Homo sapiens: one gene and its partners. The protein of the gene in region 3 purifies or fractionates together with the protein of the main gene of each other region. This does not show direct contact. Each region holds a gene or a part of one and is shown on either strand. Other genes may lie near its edges. The genes, in order: SOX5, DDI2 and ZNF7.

Region 1 (3,653 bases), on a different chromosome or scaffold from region 3:
TATAAACTATTTTGTCTCCAGTTTCTCTACTGTATTTTATACTGATTGACAATTTAAAAATAGTTTTCTATTAAATAATGTACATAATTTGATGAATAGAGTACAGGAGTTCCAAGGCCACTGACTTAAGAGATTTTTTAATTTAGTATGTACAGTTGTCACATTGTCAGAGACTTCATTGAGATAAAGCATGTACTGTGTTAAGAATTTCAATATCTCATTAGTTCTTGGTGGGAACATTAGTTGGGCCCTTTACCTGTAATACAATTATCTTACATCATTGATTACTTTCTGTGAACATTTTATTGTGTCAATAGCAGTTCTGCAGTGTATGTCGTTCACTAGTATGATTCATGACTATGTTCCTCAGAAAATGAGGTGAATAATTATAAAGAAACTTGAGATAATGTTATGAGATCCAATGGATGCATTTCTTAAAACTGTTTTGGTGCTGTTTGGTACTACATCATCCTCAGAGCAGTGCTGGAGAGTTCACGAGAAAGTTATCAAGTTTCATTATATGCTTTTTCTGTTCCTAAAGTCACCCAGTTTCTTAATTTGACAGTAATGTCTCATATGGTTTAGATTAAGCATTATATTTTTCTTAAAAATAATTTATTTTGAAATGCTATGTTCTCCATGAATGTGAATCGTGCACTGCATGCTTAAACAACTTGATGTCTCTGTAGATCTAATTTTGGTATATTTGTATCTCAAATAATTCGCCAACTCAATATTTTGGCTTAGCAATCCAAATCAAATTGTGGTCCAAGTAGCAGGCACTCACATTGGATGTACAGAGACTTGACAAGCAATTAGCAATGAATATTTAAACGTCTTCATTACCCTTGCATGAGGAATGCAGATGGCATTTGGGAAGATGGCAACCAGAGGGCACTACTGTGAATTATGTTTCTATTATTTGGTCACCTGACTATTGGAAGACTTTCTCTGGGCTTCACGCCACTCCTATACTTCTACTGTCTGGCCAAAAATAAAGCAGACATTCCAAATGTAAAACAGGTTGCTTCCATGAAATTTCTGTGCACATTTTGTAATTTGGGAAGGTTGTCTCCAAGGATCCCGGCATATATCCCTTAGGCATACCAAACCCAAACGCCAAGACTTTATAGGGGTCTATGAGAATCAGAGTTCCTTCAAAAATCGTGCTGATCATCCCCTTAATGACTTCAGGTTAATGTGCTGAACGTAAAAAGGTGAATATATCAACATTGCATCCTTTCCAGGAGTTAATGTATTATATATGTGGCCCAAAAAAAGAAAGTCTTCAAATAATTTTAATTCCTAGACTGATCTCTCATTATAATTTTTTTAAAGGAAAAAACAACACTGGAGAGTCTGACTCAGCAACTGGCAGTTAAACAGAATGAAGAAGGAAAATTTAGCCATGCAATGATGGATTTCAATCTGAGTGGAGATTCTGATGGTTTGTGAAAATTGTTCATACATATTCTAATAATGCAAGAAAGTGTCTAGGTAGTGCCAATTAAAACTGCTAAAAAATAGACTAGACAGCCACCTCATACCTCATCATTACAATAAGAGGTCACATATACTGAGCAGTCCCCATGTGCCAAGCACTCTGCTGAGTGCTTTGCAGAAATCGTCTCATTTAATTCCTAGTCAACCTAGGATAAGTCCCATTGCAGAGAAAGAGCCTGAGCCTCAGGAGTTTTGAAGCATTTTCCCCAGGTCACAGGGCTCTAAGTGTCAGAGGCAAGAATTAAATTCGAGATGGCATGATTCTAAAGCAAATGCTCAAAATGCTTAGCTTCCCAGGCTCAAGTGATCCTCCCACTTTAGCCTCCCAAGTAGCTGGGATTATAGGTGCATGCCAACATGCCCAGCAATTTTGTTTTTTTTTTTTGAGATGAGGACTTACTTACTATGGTGTCCAGGCTGGTCTCAAACTCCTGGGCTCAAGTGATCCTCCCACCTCAGCCTCCCAAAGTGCTAGTTTTATAGGCGTGAGTTACTGCATGCGGCCTCACTTCCCTATTTCTTGTACCCAAAATGAACTTTTTCAGAAATTTGTTTCTATTGGCTCATTTTTTAAGTTTCTATTTGTCAAGCCCTCACCAGAATACATGGCTCAGAGGACATTTCCACGATAGTTTCTTACATTTTGGAACCCTTCTCCCTAGTGCTATGTACTACATAGTCAAGTGTCGGGCCCACTCTCTATAACCTAACTAGAAACCAGCTGCACAGCTTTATGCTCCCTTCTCATAGGCCTTCAGACTTCTGTTTTCTGTATCATCTCTGAACATTCTAAACATCCACAGTGAGAAGAAATTAAATTGATACTCTGATTTTTAATAGCGTAGCAAAGAGGGAAAAAGAAGGAAGTGCTGTTCTTCTTATACAATACCCTGACCGGGAACATCTCTCTACTGTCAGGTGGCATCCATGCATTTTAAGCATTCCTTTGGCAGTACCGCCCTCAACTTTGTTACTACTACAGGGAAGTTCCCTGCATATAGAGAAGAGTGCACAAAGGCAAACCAGTGAGATGCATACTTTGAGAGGGGGTCCCCTTGAATCCTCCAATATACACAACTGTTTACTCTGTGCCTTGGGCCAATTCTACTTTTAAGACCAGGTCTATACTAATCAAGGGACTAAACAAACCTGAACGTTGAAACACGTAATTCTATCAAAACTGAATTTTACTCAATTGGATTCAATTTGCATTTTTCTGGGTCTAATGTTGCAAACATTTTCTTCTATTTTCAGCTCCACTTAGCTAAGATAAACCTAGCCTATGTACATTTAAAGAGCTTGTTTAGATTTGATGAAGACACATAATGTTCATTTTATTGCTTATGTTGCTGTAAGGTGTAAGAACAAGAAAAGGCAGATGTGCAAATGATCACTTGCTAGTTACAAACCCATTTTAGGAAGATGTTGCCATATATTTGCACTTATTTTGTCAATAAAAGACAATTACGGGTAATAACACATTTCATAAATTTTAAGTTGTATTAGCATGATAAAATATACCCACAGTAATCAGCATTAACACATCAAAGTTTTTGTTGCTGTCATTACCTAAATTCAATCATGCTTGTATGTGAAATATTTTCTACTTTTCATTAAATCAAAGAGCATGTTATTAATGAAAAATATTGAGAAACTTCACCAACAGGTATGCTATGTTTTGAATGTGCTGCTATAGAGGTCTTCAAGTTTGGGCAATTTTGTTTGATTCCTGTGTCTCCAAATTTAAAAATAAAGAAAAGATGAGGAATGAATACAAAGCAAGAAAAGAAAAGCAGTGCTTTTGTTGATAATACAGTCTCTACAAGTCCCCAAAGTATTTTTAAAGTTTTGGATACTATCAAAATACATCTACTTATTTTGTGATAATACCCAGTGAAAACCTACTGTCAGAGTTCTACTGGTTCTCCTTATTTTCTCTTTGCCTAAACTCAAGTATCTTGGAAGCAATTTAATCTGCTGAAGCCATTCTAAGGGGTCACATAAGGCTGGAGGAGTGAATGCAGCTTCCAAAGCTATCGTTGTTAACTCTTGAATTGTGTTTTATCATCTGTGAATCTTACTGATTGAAATGTGACTGTCCATGGGACTCTTTGGATAACTTTAAATATTAGGGGGAAAATTCAAAGGAA
Region 2 (3,653 bases), on a different chromosome or scaffold from region 3:
CTTCAATACTTGTTATTGATGGGTAAGCCCGGGAAGTGTGGGCTTCAGAAGGGGTAGGAACCTTTCCAGTTTTTAATTAGTCTCATGGTCCAGTAGTAGATGTGTTCATTATTTGTCTTCTTAACCTCCTTCTTTGATCTTCCTTTTTTTTTTTTTTTTTTTTTTTTGGAGACATTGTCTCACTCTGTCACCCAGGTTGGAGTGCAGTGTGCAGTGTGACATGATTGTAGTTCACTGCACCCTTGACTTCCTGGGCTCAAGCAGTCCTCTCACCTCAGCCTCCTGAGTAGCTGGGACTACACCTGGCTAATTTTTTATTTTTAGCAGAGATAGGGTCTTGCTGTGTTGTCCAGGCCTATCTCCAACTCCTGGGCTCAAGCAGTCCTCCTGCCTTGGCCTCCCGAAGTGCTGGGATTACAGGTGTGAGCTACCATATCCAAACCCCATCTCTTAATACAATAATGAAAAAGTCTGTATTCTGGCCCGGCGTGGTGGCTCACGCCTGTTAATCCCAGCACTTTGGGAGGCTCCGGAGGGGGGGGGGGGGGGGCGGATCACCTGAGGTCAGGAGTTTGAGACCAGCCTGGTCATGGTGAAACCCCATCTCTACTAAAAATATAAAAATTGGCCAGGCGCGGTGGCTCACGCCTGTAATCCCAGCACTTTGGGAGGCTGAGGCAGGTGGATCACGAGGTCAGGAGATGGAGACCATCCTGGCTAACACGGTGAAACCCCGTCTCTACTAAATATACAAAAAATTAGCCGGGCGTAGTGGTAGGCGCCTGTATTCCCAGCTACTCAGGAGGCTGAGGCAGGAGAATGACATAAACCCAGGGGGCGGAGCTTGCAGTGAGCTGAGATCGCACCACTGCACTCCAGCCTGGGTAAGAGAGCGAGACTCCATCTCAAAAAAAAATAATAATAAAAATTAAAAAAAAATTAGCAGGGTGCAGTGGCACACCCCCCGTAACCCCAGTTACTTGGGAGGCTGAGGCAGGAGAATTGCTTGAACTTGGGAGGCGGAGGTTGCAGTGAGTCAAGATGGCACCACTGCACTCTAGCCTGGGCAACAGAGTGAGACACTATCTCATAAAAAAGAGAAACATTCTGTTTTTTAGTATTTCAACAGATTAAGAACAGCTCAGTCCATTGCTGTGTTTAAGATAGATTGGGGTTATTTTGCTTAGACACATTTTAGAAGCTTCCTAAATTTTTTTAGGAAGTTTTTTTTGGATGTTTTTGTTTTTGTGATTTTCCTAAAGAAAATTTTGACAGTAAGCAGATGTTAACTTTTGAGTCCAACAGTATTTCCCTATTTCTTTCCTTTTCTTAGGACTGTTTTATTTTATTTTATTTATTTTATTTTATTTTATTTATATAGACAGAGTCTTGCTCTGCTGCCCATGCTGGAGTGCAGTGGCGCAGCCATGGCTCACTGCAGCCTCAGTCTCAGTCTCACAGGCTCAAGCAGATCCTCTCGCCTCCGCCTCCCAAAGTATTACAGGCATGAGCCACCATGCCTCTTAGGCCTGGTTTATTTTGAAAAGTATCATTGCTACTGTGTGTGAGCAGCCCTAACTTCACCGAAGACAGAAGAACCAACAAAAAGAAGTATAAATTTTTATTTACTTAATTAAAAAAAAAATTTTTTTTTGAGACAAGGTCTTACTCTGTCACCCAGACTGATCCTCCCATCTCCCCTTCCTGACTAGCTATGACTACAGGTGCCTGCTACCATGTCCAGCTAATTTCTGTATTTTTTGTAAAGATGAGGTTTTGCCATGTTGCCCAGGCTGGTCTTGAACTCCTGGGCTCAAGCAATCCACCCGCCTCAGCCTCTCAAAATGACAGGATTATAGGAACGAGACACCATGCCTGACCAGCATAATTGAACGTTACTGAAAATGCAGTGTTATGGTGTGAGATTACAGTATTGTCATCAGGCCATATTAGCACTGTATATATTGAAATCATGCTACCTAATACTTTTTTCTAAGTCTCAGTTATTTAGCTTGTTTAAATGTAATGATGGAGCTAAGTTTTCTAGGTAAAATGGGGTAACAGTTTTGCTGAAATCCCCCATTTATTATAGAACGGTGACTCTGGGATGTATTTTCTAGAAGCTGAATAGAATTTACTTTTGAGTTTGGGTTATTTTACAGTCTTGTGCTGGCATTATTCATCAGTATGACTAGTATCACACATTGCTTTTTCTAGTACAGTAAATTATTAAGAGTTACAAGTTCAGGGAATAGCTTTATCCTAAAGACGAAAGTGGTAAGAGTTTTAAAAACAGCCAGGCAGCTTTTGCCACTGTTTTACTGGAGAACATTCAGATGTCTGTCATTGAGCTTTAGAATGGGTGTGGGTGGCAGATGGAGTTTTCCAGGTTGACTTTGTTCAGAATCAACTCCATCACCTTTTGGCTTAGTTTTATGTATAAAGTACAGTTTGAGTCAGGGCGTGGTGGCTTATGCCTGTGATCCCAGTACTTTGGTAGGCCAAGGCAGGACGACCACTTGAGCCTGGGAATTTGAAACCAGCCTGGGCAACATAGTGAGTCTTTGTTTCTACAAGAAATTTAAAAAAAAAATTAGCCAGCCATGGTGGCGCGCCTATGGTCTCAGCTGTTTGAGAGGCTGAGATGGGAGGATCACCTAAGCCCAGGAGGTCAAGGCTGCTGTGAGCCATCATCGCTGCCACTGCAATCCAGCCTGGGTGACAGAGTGAGATCCTGTGTCCAAAAAAAAAAAAAAAACAACAGAATTGACTCCCATCACTTTTTGGCTCAAGTTTTTATATTAACTACAGTTTTGGTTGTAACTTAAGTATTTTGTAGGAAGGGAGGAATTTTGAACAACCAGACAGAGACTAACTTAATAGTTTTAATCTTACCTGCAAGGTAAGCTTGAATGAATTTGACATAGCTCCTTACAAGGTTTTGCATTTGGGGTGTAATTTATCATCTTAGTCGTGATGCTGTGTGTTAATATGAGGATATATTATCATTTTATGAAATGTCTTTTTTTTTTTTTTCCTTTTAACCTCCACAGTCTTGGTGCCATTATTTAAGAAACATTAGCTGATAATAGCAGTGTTTTCTAACCTACTAATAACAGTTATCCTTTTTTGGTAATTACCTTATTTTAGTAAAAGTTTGGAAGATTAAAACAGATACACATATGTTTCCAGGCTTAGTGAAGGGGATGTACCAACTTCAAAGAATTAAAAAGAAATGGCTTTTTACCTAAATAACCTTTTGTTGCTGGTAGTATAGCTTGTGCTAATTTTTGTAATGTTTAAGTAATGAAATAATTCTACATATCAGGTCCTTTTTATTTAGAACATCGACTTCCTAATATCATCCGAATAAATACTCTGGACATAGTAGGTGAAAGTATTTTGTTAACAACTTCTTTCTGGCCAAGCATGGTGGCTCATGCCTGTGGTCCCAACACTTTGGGAGGCTGAGGTGGGGAGATCACTTGAACCTATGGATTTGAGACCAGCCTGGGCAGCATGGCAAAACACTTGTTTCTAAAAAAAAAAACCACGGCTGGGCGCAGTGACTCACGCCTGTAATCCCAACACTTTGGGAGGCTGAGGAAGGGTGGATCACCTGAGGTCAGAAATTTGAGACCAGCCTGGCCAAC
Region 3 (3,509 bases):
AACAAGGCTGGAAGAGCTGCCAAGGGACTTACTACGTGAGCTCAGAAGAGCACTGGGCACCTAGGCCGTTCATGGCTACTCCCTGGGGTGGGCTTCTCTGAGCAGGACCCAGCCCCCTCAGCTGCCTCCTGGCTGCTGCTGCCAACTTGCACCTGGCCACCTCCCCTGCTTCTCCCTGGGCTGTGCGTGGCCACCTCTAAGACCACACTGACTTCTTCCCTGGGGCTGCAAGTTTCTGGAGGCCCCCAGGAGGCCTTCCAGACATCTGCGTTCCTTCTGGACTCTCCAAGTAAGCACAGGCTTCTGTCCTACTCTGTAACCCTAGAGGGCACCTCTGCTGAGGTCAGACATCTCCTTGATGTCTGTGATCAAACCATGACAGGATGCAACCACAACACACGGCTATGATCATGACAACCACGGTCCCCACCACGACACAATCACGTTCACAACCACAACCACGCAGCCACAGCTATAACCAGCCCGAGTCTACCCCACATGAATGCACAGCCCAGTTACAGGGCTTCAAGCTTCGGTTCCTGCCCACTCCTAACCATTGGTGGTGAGTCTCCGGCTTCCAGGGATCTCCAAAGGTCTTCCTATCAGTCCTGGAGAATCAGAGCAGGAAGCCCTTTCAACCTCATTGTGTAGCAGGGATGCTCAAGGCCTGTGAGGACAGGAGGCATCTCCAGGCCTGGTCCTCATGTGCTGCTTTCCCTGCACAACCACACCACCTCAGCATGCCTGCTCTTTCAACAGGGCTTGCTTGACACTCCTCCCAAGCCTTCCCCTGCTGTGAAGATAAGAGAGCAGGGTGGCCAGGTGCAGTGGCTCACGCCTGTAATCCCGGCTACTTGGGAGGCTGAGGCACAAGAATCACTTGAACCTGGCAGGCAGAGGTTGCAGTGAGCCAAGATCATGCCACTGCACTCCAGCCTGGGCAACAAAGACTCCATCTCAAAAAATAAAAAAATAAAGAGCAGCGGCAGAGAGAGCAGGGCCAAGCTGACAGCAAGGCTTTGTTGGGGGATGCCAGGAACCACCCAGCAGGGGGCACGGTGGTGGTCAAAAGCGTGGGGGTGCACAGCTGGGACCTGGCCGCTCCTCCACTGCTCTGGGCCAATATCTTTCAGTATCTGATGCTGACTGTACCAGCTGGGGACAAGTAACATATCTGGGCATTTCTGCCTTGCTTCATGTATTCTGGTTTTGTGCTGCTGCATGTTTTATCTAAGAGGCTACATCCCTGCCCCGGACTCTCAGGTCTGCGAGCAAGTGCTGGGTCCATCAACAGCAGCTCTCACCTACTGTGGGATTCTATTTTTTTGTTGTTGCTTTATCACAGTGAGGACCACCTGCTACATATAAACCCACTGAACTATTTCTGCCAACTGTAGCTGGCTTTTCTGCCATGGCACCCTCTTTAAACGCTCCTGTCCATGTTGGAGACATTTTAATGGGCGGCTGGGTTTTAACTGGGCCACCTTATAGCTGAACCTCCTTCTCAGGGAGACTGAGCAGAAAGGATCACATGGGAGTAGCCAGCAGAGCCAGTGAGGCCAGGGTTCCTGACCACTCTTCCCACACATCACATGCAGACTTCCTGGGCGGCTGCAAGGCCCACAGGGCGTGAAGAGGCTCAGAAACCCTCCTTGTCCTTTGAAGCTGCCTAGGGGCATATGAATGGAAGTAAGGTCACAGCCCCTAGGCGCATATGAATGGAAGTAAGGTCACAGCCCCTAGGCGCATATGAATGGAAGTAAGGTCACAGCCCCTAGGCGCATATGAATGGAAGTAAGGTCACAGCCCCTAGGCGCATATGAATGGAAGTAAGGTCACAGCCCCTAGGCGCATATGAATGGAAGTAAGGTCACAGCCCCTAGGCGCATATGAATGGAAGTAAGGTCACAGCCCCTAGGCGCATATGAATGGAAGTAAGATCACAGCCCCTGCTTTTTTTTTTTTTTTTTTTTTGAGACGTCATCTCGCTCTGTCGCCCAGGCTGGAGTGCAGTAGCGCAATCTCGGCTCACTGCAAGCTCTGCCTCCTGGGCTCACACCATTCTCCTGCCTCGGCCTCCCGAGTAGCTGGGACTACAGGCGCCTGCCACCACGCCTGGTTAATTTTTTGTATTTTTAGTAGACACAGGGTTTCACCGTGTTGGCCAGGATGGTCTCGATCTCCTGACCTCGTGATCCGCCCACCTCGGCCTCCCAAATCGCTAGAATGGCCGGCGTGAGCCACCATGCCCGGCTCCACGGCCCCTACTTTTCACAACTTTGGACTGTCCAACTTGCTTCCCGAGGCCCCTACAAGCCGGTGGCCTCTGTAGGACCTGGTCCTGCCCTGCTGCAGGAGTGACGGTGATGACCCAGCAGCAACTGAAAGGGAGGTGAGGGGCTTCCTTTCTGCAGCTGAGATGCACGCAGACCCATCTCCCTTGTCATGCTGGGCAGCACACCGGCTAAGCAGGGGAGCAGAGCACCAGGCCGGGCGCCTGCCCAGCAGGAGCTGATGCCGGAGGCAGTGGGTGCCCTGGTTAGGGCTGAGGACCCCAAGATAGGCTGAAGTCCTAACTTGAAGCACCTCAGAATGTGACCTTGTTTGGAAACACAGTCGTTGCAGATTAATTAGTCACCATGAGGTCACTGGGGTGGCCCCTAACCCACCATGACTGGTGTCCTTCTAAGGAGATGGCCACATGAACACAGACACGCAGGGAGAAGGCAGCCGTGTGAAGGAGTCGGAGATCAGAGTGAGGGACGCATCCACAAGCCAAGGAACCCAAGGACTGCCAGAAAACCACCAGCTGCCCGGAGAGGCAGGACAGGATCCTTCCCTAAAGCCTTCACAGGGGGGCACGGCCCTGCTTGCTGACCCCCCGGTTTCAGATTTCCGGCCTCCACAGCTGTGAGACAATAAATTTCTGTTGTTTTAAGCTTCCTAGTCTGTGGTTCATTGTTATGGCAGCCACAGGAAAGTAATGCACTCCTGGAGCCTGAGAGGGTCTGAAGGGAGCTGCCTCAGGGAATATGCTTACCCGAGGAGAGGTTACTGAATGCCAAACCTAACCCTTCACTTGGATCCATAGGTTTGTATCTTTGCTTAACGAAAGTATGAGTAAAATTAAAAATAGAACAAAATGTGACATGATTCAAAAACAAGCTCCGTTTTTGTGGAAATGCATGGGTTTTTGTGTCTTGGCTCTTCTGCAGTTTGGCCTCTCCCAAGGCAGCCCCACAACGGGTCTATGCTCCCTTCTAGGTGCTGGATGCTGCTTCCCCAGTAGCATTCCCAGGCATCCCAGTGTAGCCCCCGCGACTCACCCACAGCTACCCACAGTTGTGAGGCCCCTCCTGCAGTTTCTCCTCACCCCAGGGCTTCTCTGCGATGGGATCTAAGCCTCACCTGTCTTGGAGGTCCTTGGTGCCTCTGTCCCCTCTGCTCCCTGCAGGTCGAGGACCCATGGCTCTTCTCCCTGCTCCAGCCGAGAGATCAGCTCAGGCTTG

Evidence for each region.
Region 1: the proteins of ZNF7 (region 3) and SOX5 purify together in Homo sapiens (affinity purification with mass spectrometry; one large-scale study listed by BioGRID and IntAct). This does not show direct contact.
Region 2: the proteins of ZNF7 (region 3) and DDI2 purify together in Homo sapiens (co-immunoprecipitation; one large-scale study listed by IntAct). This does not show direct contact.

What each region holds. Positions count from the first base shown.
Region 1 is NC_000012.12:23,544,110-23,547,762, reverse strand, and holds part of SOX5 (transcription factor SOX-5), read left to right. Parts: intron 1-1,338; coding exon 1,339-1,447; intron 1,448-3,653.
Region 2 is NC_000001.11:15,651,916-15,655,568, forward strand, and holds part of DDI2 (protein DDI1 homolog 2), read left to right. Parts: intron 1-3,653. UniProt on the Homo sapiens protein: Aspartic protease that mediates the cleavage of NFE2L1/NRF1 at 'Leu-104', thereby promoting release of NFE2L1/NRF1 from the endoplasmic reticulum membrane.
Region 3 is NC_000008.11:144,837,407-144,840,915, reverse strand, and holds part of ZNF7 (zinc finger protein 7), read right to left. Parts: coding exon 3,409-3,509; intron 2,939-3,408; exon of another isoform or gene 1-2,938.